Linked DNA regions of Homo sapiens: all the other regions are reported to be linked to region 1. The links are microRNA targets in miRTarBase. Many come from high-throughput screens and were not tested one by one. Region 1 holds a microRNA gene; each other region holds the end of a gene's coding sequence.
The links. Region 1 holds the annotated microRNA hsa-miR-4782-5p (UUCUGGAUAUGAAGACAAUCAA, at 1,378-1,399, shown strand). A microRNA usually pairs through its seed, bases 2 to 8, with sites in the 3' UTR of a target mRNA and lowers its output. Matches are read on the target gene's strand: a 7mer-m8 pairs with bases 2 to 8, a 7mer-A1 pairs with bases 2 to 7 and ends in A, and an 8mer does both.

Region 2: miRTarBase lists CCND1 as a target of hsa-miR-4782-5p. Seed matches in the 3' UTR shown: 7mer-A1 at 3,256-3,262.
Region 3: the mRNA of MYRF is a reported target of hsa-miR-4782-5p. Seed matches in the 3' UTR shown: 7mer-A1 at 1,605-1,611.

Annotation. Positions count from the first base shown.
Region 1 is chr2:113,718,418-113,722,736 of GRCh38, reverse strand. It overlaps MIR4782 (microRNA 4782), which reads left to right and starts at 1,369; the gene lies at 1,369-1,447. It overlaps SLC35F5 (solute carrier family 35 member F5), which reads left to right. Exons shown (of 16, transcript NM_025181.5): 14 at 3,429-3,583.
Region 2 is chr11:69,650,880-69,654,879 of GRCh38, forward strand. CCND1 (cyclin D1) reads left to right here. Exons shown (of 5, transcript NM_053056.3): 5 at 239-3,595. The coding sequence ends at 403. Among named protein-coding and RNA genes, the nearest start is that of CCND1, 12 kb to the left of the region's middle.
Region 3 is chr11:61,785,823-61,789,822 of GRCh38, forward strand. It overlaps MYRF (myelin regulatory factor), which reads left to right. Exons shown (of 27, transcript NM_001127392.3): 26 at 1-52; 27 at 241-2,696. The coding sequence ends at 321. It overlaps TMEM258 (transmembrane protein 258), which reads right to left. Exons shown (of 4, transcript NM_014206.4): 3 at 3,963-4,000; 4 at 3,127-3,413. The coding sequence ends at 3,973. Among named protein-coding and RNA genes, the nearest start is that of MIR611, 4.7 kb to the right of the region's middle. RefSeq lists enhancers at 1-8, 9-753.

The sequences.
Region 1 (4,319 bases):
ACAGGAATCATGCTGTTTGCAGTAAAAGTTAGCCATCTCTCTCTGGACTCAGCAGAGTGGGTATCCCATCCCTTTTCTCTGAAGGCCTAGTATGGATGTGGGGATTCTTGTGATAAATATTGGCAATGCTAACACCGCAGAAAAGAGAATCTGGGATGTTTCTGCCAGCAGCCTAGAAGGGAAGAGTTTATTCAGTGCTCTTGGGTGAAGCAGGAAGAACAGAGGTATGCTGTTGCCCAGCACTGAAAGATGGAGCATAGCCATTTATCACACAGTTCAGTATATGTAGGCATTTAACTTTTAACTGCAACTACTAAGTCACAGAAGTATGTGTGTGTGTGTGTGTGTATGTATGTGTGTTTTAGTCTAATATAATTTGAAGAGGGAAATACTTCAAGGCCCAAAGGCTTATAATGTGTACAAGCAATAATCAAAATTTTAAACCTATTTTTCTCTAGGTCTTAGCCAGGCACAGTGGCTCACGCCTGTAATCCCAGCACTTGGGAGGCCGAGGCAGGCAGATCACTTGAGGTTAGGAGTTCGAGACCAGCCTGGCCAGCATGGTGAAACCCCGTCTCTACTAAAAATACAAAAATTAGCTGGGTGTGATGGCGTGCACCTGTAATCCCAGCTACTTGGGAGGCTGAGGCAGGAGAATCACTTGAACCCGGGAGGCGGAGGTTGCAGTGAGCCAAGATCATGCCACTGCGCTCCAGCCTGGGCAACAGAACAAGACTCCATCTCAAAAAAAAAAAAAAAAAAAAAGATAAAAGCAAAATATGCTTAGTGCTCTATATCCTCTTTATTTATAAAATAATTCTTTACTGATATTTAACTTTGTTTTATGGTCAGTAAATTCTTATTTGTCATGGTTAAAGAACTGAGATTCTTTCCTTAATTGAGAATTAATTATCTTACATAACTTGCATTTTCAAAGAATGTGGATATTCCATATAACACTAACATTGCACATTATTACACATCATTCTTTTATAGATTTAAGTAATATCTAGGCCCTTCTTCATCTTCAGGTCATAATCCTGAATATGAACCAAACTGGTTGTGAAACTGGGAAGGTGCTACTTGTTAGAGGATTTTGGTAGACTACTGTGTAAATCATCTTTATTGTACTGATATTTTAAAAACAAAAGCTTTCGTAGATTGAAAAAAATTGCAGCTTAATGTTCAGGAATTTTTAAGAAAATAGTCACAGGGGACCTAATTGTATTAAATGATTAGTCATTTCATAATTATCATTACAAACAATAATGGTTATAATTTGTTTAATAAAGTATTTTAGGGTAAAGACAAAACGGGGAAATGTATGCACATGCAATTAATTATAAAAACATAACCAAACTTTAACTGATTGCCCAGTTCTGGATATGAAGACAATCAAGAAAAGATTTGGTGTTCTTGATTGTCTTCATATCTAGAACTGGGCAGTCAGTTAAAGGAGCAGGCTGTGTGTTGGTGTCAGGATTGAGGTTAGGGAGATTCCATCTGGAAAAAGCAGCAGTGTGTGTCCAGAACTGTAACACAAACATAAGAGAAATCTACTTTTATAGGGTTTTTAGGTTTAATTAGCTAACTGTATTTATATATAGCTTCTGAAATGTTAGCATTTATTAACATTGTGCTTGAAACAAATTGGTTATTTAAATCTATTTATAATCATTTTATATAATAGAAAGCATCCTTGATCATATTCTATTTGATATTCAGATATATTTAGGAATTAGAAAAAAAAATTTTGTTTACATAGGTAATTTTCTTTGTTGTAATAAATGGCTTCGTTTCTTTTGTCTTAGCTTGTTGGAAATCAAATTAGAAGTTTTTTATTATGAGACAACATATAAACAGCTACATTGTGGAAAGTGAACTTGCCTTCTAAAGTCTTCTAGGGCTTTATCTATCTTTATTAAGTTTGCTTTGATTCAGTTATGAAATAAGGTTTTTAGTTGAATATTCATGAAATAATTCTATCAACTATATCTACATTTTTAATCGCATTATTTATAACTTCTTAATACCTTTTCTGATCTTGGATAATTTAAATGCAGCATGGTTTTTCCTGATTATTAGTCATTCTGGCAAATATTCCAGGAATATGTTAAAATATATTGGTAATTTCATAACTAAATGAAGGCTTTTCAGTTTAATGACTATTCTTTCCGGGGTCTTCTTAGGCTGACTCAGTCATTGTATATGAATACCATAGAAATAGGGCATGCATGTTAAAAATTGTCAGTTATTATTCTTGTGTTATGCATTGTGAGTTCCCTCATAAAAGACATTATGCTCACAAAACTCGTTTACTCTGACTAATGGTGCTATGAAATGGAATAGTATATGTTTTCCACCAGAGGGAGTCTTACCTATGATTCCATGCCCTTTTTTTTTTTTTTTTAATTCTCAAAGAGGGCAAACACAGTTTTCCTTTCCTATTTTATAGATAGAAGTTACTATTTTCATCATTATTTTTAAAGCAAACCTCCTGTGTGTTACACTTAAGTCTCAGTGGTTGATCAGTGTAGGCTTCTTTGACAATCGTTTCTGATCTTTAGCTGAGTCTAGATGGTAAAAGTGAACTAGTGAAAGGGAAGAATGAGTTTTGTTTTGGATGGCATCTCATTATTTTTTATTTTCTTTTTATTTATATATTTGTTTTTCTTATTTTTTTTTCTTTTTGATTTTAATACCTCCACCCTACTTACAGATATTTTTTATTTTCTTGACAACTCTGATAAATGATGGATTGGAGGATCAGACTTGTTGACATCACTGATGAGGCTTGTCTTGTTGCTTGTCTTCTCTGGCTAACATTCCTTAGTAAAAATATTTCTATATTTTTTTCTTTATTTTATTTGGTCATTATTTCATTTTGAGCTTTTTTCATTTATTACTAGATAAGCGAGTTTTGAGTGTCAAATTTGCACTTAATTTGTTTTTGGTACTGTCATAAGGACTGTAGCATACACAGCATACTACAACTGTAACTTTTTACGAAAATATACATTTTTTGAAGATGACTTCAGAAACTGAGGGAGAGAGACCCACTTGAGACTAGGCAGCAAACAGTGAAGAAGAAATGAGCAACATGGTGTGCAGGAGCAAAGTTTCCTACTGTATATCTCTACTCTAAGTGTACAATGCCTATAAATGGAAAGTATGCTTTCTTGGCTTTCCTTTAGCCTATTTTCCAAGCAAGAACTATTGTTGTTGGTAATTTAGGTGCATGGAATAGTAAGTTGAAGTCTTGAATTCTTATTTAATAATAATACACTTAATACATTGTCAGTGTTTAATTTTGTCTTCCCATTGTTCTTATTCCTGCTAGTTTTCACAAATAGAAAACTTACATTGAAGGGGAAAATTGCCTTAATGATAATTGTGGGTGTGTTTTTTCCTCTATCTTTTATTTTTAGGTGCAGTTTTCTTGGTTATTTTTTGCAGGAGCTATCCCTGTATTTTTTTCATTTTTTATTGTAACTCTCCTATGCCATTATAATAATTGGGATCCTGTGATGGTGGGAATCAGAAGAATATTTGCTTTTATATGCAGAAAACATCGAATTCAGAGGTAAGTTTAGTCCCAATACACATTTTTAAAAATAGTGTTTGCTAGATAACTGAGAATTGCATCATGCTGGCCTAGCTTTTAGAGATTTTGTGAGGAATTATTGAAAGATGATAACTTATATGTTACGGCAGATGAAAATAAAATAATTGGTTTAGATCTTTTGGGTAATAAGATTCTTTCTCCTTTCTTTCTTTCTTTCTTCCTTCCTTCCTTTCTTCCTTTCTTTTTCTTTCTTTCTTTCTTTCTTTCTTTCTTTCTTTCTTTCTTTCTTTCTTTCTTTCTTTCTTTTTCTTTCTCTCTCTTTTTCTTTCCTTTTCTTTCCCTCTTTCTTTCTTCTCTTTCTTCTTTTTTTCTCTTTCTTGACAGAGTCTTGCTCTGTAGCCCAGCCTGGAGTGCAATGGCACGATCTCAGCTCACTGCAACCTCTGCCTCCTGGGTTCAAGTGATTCTCCTGCCTCAGCCTCCTGAGTAGCTGGGATTACAGGCATGCACCACCATGCCCAGCTAATTTTTGTATTTTCAGTAGAGGCAGGTTTCACCGTGTTGGCCAGGCTGGCCTTGAATTCCCAACCACAAGTGATTTGCCTGCCTAGTAACTACATTTTTTTAAAAAAAATATGATTCACAGGTAATACCAAAAGGTTTACTGTTTTGCCATAACAAACTTAAATATAGAAAACTTTTATTGGTTTGAACATAATTCATGATAGAATAGTATTGCCTCAGTTTTTCTTTC
Region 2 (4,000 bases), not on the chromosome of region 1:
TGTGGCTCCAGAGACCAGGTGGGAGGTGGAGGCATTTGGTCCTGAGTGTCCTGACAGGTGATGGCAGCTCCCACATCTCGCTCAGGTTCAGAGGAGGCAGCATGGGCCGAGGGACAGTTTTTGGCTTAGTCTTGCTCTTATAAAGGCTTCCGGGTCATGGCACCTGGGAAGGGGCCCTCGCTGCAGGCCCCTTCTAAGGACCCCCTCTTCCCACCTCTCCCCACCCTCTCTCTCTCAGGACTGCCTCCGGGCCTGCCAGGAGCAGATCGAAGCCCTGCTGGAGTCAAGCCTGCGCCAGGCCCAGCAGAACATGGACCCCAAGGCCGCCGAGGAGGAGGAAGAGGAGGAGGAGGAGGTGGACCTGGCTTGCACACCCACCGACGTGCGGGACGTGGACATCTGAGGGCGCCAGGCAGGCGGGCGCCACCGCCACCCGCAGCGAGGGCGGAGCCGGCCCCAGGTGCTCCCCTGACAGTCCCTCCTCTCCGGAGCATTTTGATACCAGAAGGGAAAGCTTCATTCTCCTTGTTGTTGGTTGTTTTTTCCTTTGCTCTTTCCCCCTTCCATCTCTGACTTAAGCAAAAGAAAAAGATTACCCAAAAACTGTCTTTAAAAGAGAGAGAGAGAAAAAAAAAATAGTATTTGCATAACCCTGAGCGGTGGGGGAGGAGGGTTGTGCTACAGATGATAGAGGATTTTATACCCCAATAATCAACTCGTTTTTATATTAATGTACTTGTTTCTCTGTTGTAAGAATAGGCATTAACACAAAGGAGGCGTCTCGGGAGAGGATTAGGTTCCATCCTTTACGTGTTTAAAAAAAAGCATAAAAACATTTTAAAAACATAGAAAAATTCAGCAAACCATTTTTAAAGTAGAAGAGGGTTTTAGGTAGAAAAACATATTCTTGTGCTTTTCCTGATAAAGCACAGCTGTAGTGGGGTTCTAGGCATCTCTGTACTTTGCTTGCTCATATGCATGTAGTCACTTTATAAGTCATTGTATGTTATTATATTCCGTAGGTAGATGTGTAACCTCTTCACCTTATTCATGGCTGAAGTCACCTCTTGGTTACAGTAGCGTAGCGTGCCCGTGTGCATGTCCTTTGCGCCTGTGACCACCACCCCAACAAACCATCCAGTGACAAACCATCCAGTGGAGGTTTGTCGGGCACCAGCCAGCGTAGCAGGGTCGGGAAAGGCCACCTGTCCCACTCCTACGATACGCTACTATAAAGAGAAGACGAAATAGTGACATAATATATTCTATTTTTATACTCTTCCTATTTTTGTAGTGACCTGTTTATGAGATGCTGGTTTTCTACCCAACGGCCCTGCAGCCAGCTCACGTCCAGGTTCAACCCACAGCTACTTGGTTTGTGTTCTTCTTCATATTCTAAAACCATTCCATTTCCAAGCACTTTCAGTCCAATAGGTGTAGGAAATAGCGCTGTTTTTGTTGTGTGTGCAGGGAGGGCAGTTTTCTAATGGAATGGTTTGGGAATATCCATGTACTTGTTTGCAAGCAGGACTTTGAGGCAAGTGTGGGCCACTGTGGTGGCAGTGGAGGTGGGGTGTTTGGGAGGCTGCGTGCCAGTCAAGAAGAAAAAGGTTTGCATTCTCACATTGCCAGGATGATAAGTTCCTTTCCTTTTCTTTAAAGAAGTTGAAGTTTAGGAATCCTTTGGTGCCAACTGGTGTTTGAAAGTAGGGACCTCAGAGGTTTACCTAGAGAACAGGTGGTTTTTAAGGGTTATCTTAGATGTTTCACACCGGAAGGTTTTTAAACACTAAAATATATAATTTATAGTTAAGGCTAAAAAGTATATTTATTGCAGAGGATGTTCATAAGGCCAGTATGATTTATAAATGCAATCTCCCCTTGATTTAAACACACAGATACACACACACACACACACACACACAAACCTTCTGCCTTTGATGTTACAGATTTAATACAGTTTATTTTTAAAGATAGATCCTTTTATAGGTGAGAAAAAAACAATCTGGAAGAAAAAAACCACACAAAGACATTGATTCAGCCTGTTTGGCGTTTCCCAGAGTCATCTGATTGGACAGGCATGGGTGCAAGGAAAATTAGGGTACTCAACCTAAGTTCGGTTCCGATGAATTCTTATCCCCTGCCCCTTCCTTTAAAAAACTTAGTGACAAAATAGACAATTTGCACATCTTGGCTATGTAATTCTTGTAATTTTTATTTAGGAAGTGTTGAAGGGAGGTGGCAAGAGTGTGGAGGCTGACGTGTGAGGGAGGACAGGCGGGAGGAGGTGTGAGGAGGAGGCTCCCGAGGGGAAGGGGCGGTGCCCACACCGGGGACAGGCCGCAGCTCCATTTTCTTATTGCGCTGCTACCGTTGACTTCCAGGCACGGTTTGGAAATATTCACATCGCTTCTGTGTATCTCTTTCACATTGTTTGCTGCTATTGGAGGATCAGTTTTTTGTTTTACAATGTCATATACTGCCATGTACTAGTTTTAGTTTTCTCTTAGAACATTGTATTACAGATGCCTTTTTTGTAGTTTTTTTTTTTTTTATGTGATCAATTTTGACTTAATGTGATTACTGCTCTATTCCAAAAAGGTTGCTGTTTCACAATACCTCATGCTTCACTTAGCCATGGTGGACCCAGCGGGCAGGTTCTGCCTGCTTTGGCGGGCAGACACGCGGGCGCGATCCCACACAGGCTGGCGGGGGCCGGCCCCGAGGCCGCGTGCGTGAGAACCGCGCCGGTGTCCCCAGAGACCAGGCTGTGTCCCTCTTCTCTTCCCTGCGCCTGTGATGCTGGGCACTTCATCTGATCGGGGGCGTAGCATCATAGTAGTTTTTACAGCTGTGTTATTCTTTGCGTGTAGCTATGGAAGTTGCATAATTATTATTATTATTATTATAACAAGTGTGTCTTACGTGCCACCACGGCGTTGTACCTGTAGGACTCTCATTCGGGATGATTGGAATAGCTTCTGGAATTTGTTCAAGTTTTGGGTATGTTTAATCTGTTATGTACTAGTGTTCTGTTTGTTATTGTTTTGTTAATTACACCATAATGCTAATTTAAAGAGACTCCAAATCTCAATGAAGCCAGCTCACAGTGCTGTGTGCCCCGGTCACCTAGCAAGCTGCCGAACCAAAAGAATTTGCACCCCGCTGCGGGCCCACGTGGTTGGGGCCCTGCCCTGGCAGGGTCATCCTGTGCTCGGAGGCCATCTCGGGCACAGGCCCACCCCGCCCCACCCCTCCAGAACACGGCTCACGCTTACCTCAACCATCCTGGCTGCGGCGTCTGTCTGAACCACGCGGGGGCCTTGAGGGACGCTTTGTCTGTCGTGATGGGGCAAGGGCACAAGTCCTGGATGTTGTGTGTATCGAGAGGCCAAAGGCTGGTGGCAAGTGCACGGGGCACAGCGGAGTCTGTCCTGTGACGCGCAAGTCTGAGGGTCTGGGCGGCGGGCGGCTGGGTCTGTGCATTTCTGGTTGCACCGCGGCGCTTCCCAGCACCAACATGTAACCGGCATGTTTCCAGCAGAAGACAAAAAGACAAACATGAAAGTCTAGAAATAAAACTGGTAAAACCCCAGCGTGGTGCCTGCCTCTTTGCTTCCTGGGCTGGCCGTGAGCCAGGGACGCGTGTCCTGGTGCCCTAGAACCAGGGCAGGGTGGCAGGCTTGGCGGATGTGGGAGGCCGCAGCCTGTCCTGTGCGCTGTGGGAAGTTCAGCAGCATCCTGACCTCCATCCCCGGGATGACAGTCACGCCACCCGCCGTGACAACCAAGAATGTCTCCTGACACTGCCACATCCCCGGGGGTGGGGACAGAATCCAGCCAGGAGCAGGCACACCCCTCCCAACTGGGAGGAAGCCCTCAGCACAGGTGTGTGAGGTGGGAGGCGGTGTCCTGTCCCCGGGAGGCTCCAGAGAATAATTTGCAGGCTGCCTGGCTGGGTGAGCCCACCTCCAACCACGCGAGACAACAGCTCCGGCCT
Region 3 (4,000 bases), not on the chromosome of region 1:
AACCATCCTGTCCTTCCGTGAATTCACCTACCACTTCCGGGTGGCACTGCTGGTGAGCAGGGGCATCCCACCTACCCTGGAGGTCTGGGCACCCCTGTCTGCGACGTGGGGCTTGAGGAATGGGGGGTTTGCACAGTATGTGGTAGGGCTGGGGGCACAGTGTCAAGCAATGTCAGCAGGGAGTGCCATCTGCCCCGCACCCCCAGAGCCACCTCACCTTCCCACTGCCCTTCCACCCAGGGTCAGGCCAACTGCAGTTCAGAGGCTCTCGCCCAGCCAGCCACAGACTACCACTTCCACTTCTACCGCCTGTGTGACTGAGCTGCCCTCCTGAGGCAGCACCACACCAGGGACCAGGGGTGCCCAGGCACCCCCCAACACTGGATGCAATGGTGTTACACTGGAGCCCGCTGCAGGCCAGCTCTGCTGTTCACTGGCCCTACCCGAGACTGGTGAAACTGGAAGTCTTCACACTGGAGTTGCTGTTCCAGCTGGTCGCCCCTCACGGCACAGAGGGAACCTGAGAGCCAGAGACTTCTTGGGCCTTCCTGCCTGCCACCCCCTAGGGGCCAGGACAGGACCAGTTTACCTCTTTCCAGATATGGTGGTTGGAGGGCTGGTTCAGGTGCCCTGGAGGGAAGGGGAAGCCTGTGGCCCTGATTTGTTCAGAGCCCATTCTCCCTTGCCTCCCCTTTTGAGACTGGAGCCAACCCTTTTGGAGAGAGGACCTGCCCACCTTTGAGATCAGCAGGGGGCTCGGATCCAGCCCTAAGAGACTTGGGTGGACCCCCATGAGTCAATGGAGGGCAGACGGCTCTCCCCCTTAAAGCTGTTCCCTGGGGGATGGCTTGGTAGTGGACTTTCTGGGGTTTGCCTGTTACGCCAGACTCGGACTTCTAAGCTTTAAGTGTGGCCCAGGAGGTTTCTTCTCCCTGGGAGGGCTTGGCTCCCAAGAAGTCCCAGGGCAGCCGAGGCCAGCCCTGCCTGGGTTGGAGAAACTGACTTTGTGCCTTAAGTCTACTCAGTGCCTGGTGAAGCCACCCTCAGCCCTTCACAGGCCTGAACCAGTAGGGGCCAGTGGGCCAGGTAAGCCCTAGAGCCTTGAACCAGGAATATCCAGGAAGAGGAAATTCCCTTTGAGCCCCCAGATGGTATTGCAGCTTCACTGCCTGCGTTCCTGGGAGCGTCTGGAGCTCACAGTGATCAGTGACCACATCATTCTCTCTGAGCAGAGGAGCAGGAATCCCTCAAGCAGCAGCCTGGTCTTGGCTGGTGGGCAGATGCAAATAGCTTTTGCTGTTATTAATGAAGTAATTACTAAATGCACTTAAACCAGGGCAGGAAGGAATGGAAGGATGGAGCTAGAAAGCTCAGAGTGGGCCAGAGCAGGGGTGTGACACTTGCAAAGACAGGGCTCTGACTCTGATCCCTCCCAGGGAGCCTCCGACACCCATCCCACTCCCAACCACCAAGACCCTGGGTTAGGGAAGAAGTTGTATCTTAAGTGCCACCTTCAAGTTTCTTAGTGGTGCCTGGTGCATTCCGAGGCTACATCCAGGCTCATGGAAGGAGTGTAGTATTCATTTAGCCATGTCTGCCATGGGTCCAGAAATGGGAAAGGGAATTGCTGTCCTTGCCCTGTGGTATGCTGCCACCTCTTTGGGAAGCAGGCCTTGCCCCTGTCCCACCACTCATTCTCAGCTTTGAATGGGAGGCCTTTCTATAGTGGAGGCCTTTCCTTGAAGCCTATGAACTGCAGGCCCCCTTTTGCCATTGATCTCAAAGCACTTGTCCTCAGGATAGGGAAGAGCAGGGGGATGCAGGAATAGCAGGGATAGCTTGCTCCCAGCCCCCTCCCCAATTTGGTTCCGTTGACATAGGAATTTTACGATTCCCAAACCATGCAGGGGCTGAGCCTTCCTTATGATGACTTTGTTCTCCCTCCCACTGGGGGAATCCTCCCTATGCCTTAAAACTGCCGAGCCCCACTCCATGTAATAGGATTCCTGGGCTTCCTCAATGGGGGTTCATGTTCTTGGACTGCGGGCCCTCAGTCCTTAACTGGAAAGTGACCGTCCACTGCCCCATGGAGCCCATCTGGACACAGCACAGCCCCAAAACCGTTAGCAGCTGGCTCTGTTTCCAAGCCTGGGGAGGGGTTCCTCAGTGCAGGAGTTGGGGACAGGCTGGGGATCCAAGCTGCTTGAGGGGGTCAACCTTGGACCAAAGTTGCCTTAAGCCTGTGGTAAAAGGGCTTCAGGGAAGGTAAGTGGGCCACCTGCTGGAAGCTGCCAGCTGCCCGGCTGGCAATGGTGTGAGTGTCTTGGCCCTGTCCCTGCCCTGGGGTCCAGCAGGTCATCCCTCCCTTCTTCTCTCTCCTTTGGCGTTTGTTCCTGTAGTCACTGGGCTAATCTCCCCCTAGCTTCAAGCTGTACATAGGGCCTCCCAGTGCAAATCCTCCTGCCCATACCGTGCACCCTTAGAAGCCTGCGTGTGCATAGAGCGCCCCCTACTTCCCAGTTAACTCCCAGTTCTTCTCCCTGAGCTTGGTATTTGTCATGTGCCAACTCTGACTCTGAGGTGGGCAGTGAGGGAAGCAGCCCCGGGCCTGCTTGCTTCCTGTCCCCGAAATGTTCGTTTCTTCTGAAGTAAATATACATATATAAATAAATGTATAAATACTGCTTTGTATCTGAGCTTGCCTCCTTGTCTCTTCTTGGGATTGGTCTGGTGGGAGAGGAGTCACCTATAAGGCTAGGGCCAATTGGAATTCAAAGTTCTTCCTGAGAAGCCTGGAATCTCTGAGCGCCTGAACCAGAGGGCCAAATGGATGCTTCATACCCCTTATCCTCTTAGCTTCATATTGGGGCTAGGAGTGGACTCATCAGCCTCTCCCATGGCCACACCTTCCCCTCCTGCGCACCCGCTGCTGCCCACCTGCATTAAAAGTAGCCACTGAGGAGAAAAGCCTTCTTAGGGGGAGAAGCTGAGCCTGGTGAGGATGCCCCAGCACAGAGAATGGTGGCTATGTTTATGGCAGGGACTGGCCTAGGGCAGAATGGACCGATGTGGGTTCCCAGAGAAGTTTGTCCTAGAAACAATAGAAAAGGGTAGGCCCAGACCCTATCCACAGGTAAGCCTTAAATTCCAATGACAAAACACCGGTGCTACACAAATCTCATCCCCCTTAAGTAGATCAGCAGCAGGAACTGTGAAAGGCAGATGAGAAATGGGAAAGGGAAGAGATTGGGGAAGCAATGTAGGTCCCAGCACCCACCACCCCTGCAGAATGGGCCCCAGACAGGACTGCTATACATCTGCATTTATTATGAGCAGCAGGTGGGACACTTCCAGCAACAGTAAAAAAAAGTAATTTACAAAAGCAGGTTTCAGTGAAGCCATCTGGTTGTTACCTAAAAGAGGAGAGGGGTATCAAAATAAGACCAATGGCCCTTCTTTCCTCCTTCTCTCCCTGCACCCCTGTGCTCCTGGGGCAAGGGCTATTGAGCACACACCTCTGAGGATGAGCCACCAGAGCTGATTCCTAGTGGCCTGTTTGGTGGATTGTCTGCAGCAAGTTTTAAGCCCTGGATCTTGACCCCCTTTCAGCCAGCTGACTTCCCAGCAGCCTCTCCAAGTCACTGGGGTCTGACTTCTAAGAATGTAAATGTACAGCCATGGGATGCCTGCGTCCACACTTCTAGGTGGTACATCCCAAAGGCAGATCGAGGCCTTGGGCCATGTGAGCTCAGAACTGAGAGTCACATTTGGCTCAAATCCGTATGAGGGGCAGGGAAAGAGGCACAAATGTCTAGTGTCCCTACCCATTCCACTGAGTCTGTCTCCATCAACCAAGGGGTCATGCTGGTAAGAGCTTTAAGGACCCTGCTGACCTGACTCTGGGGAGGCTTCCCTGGGCTGTGCCTTGGAGGCTCACGCATCCATCCCATTGCAGCTCTTACCCTTGGGTGCTCACACGTAGATGCCAACCCAGAGCAGC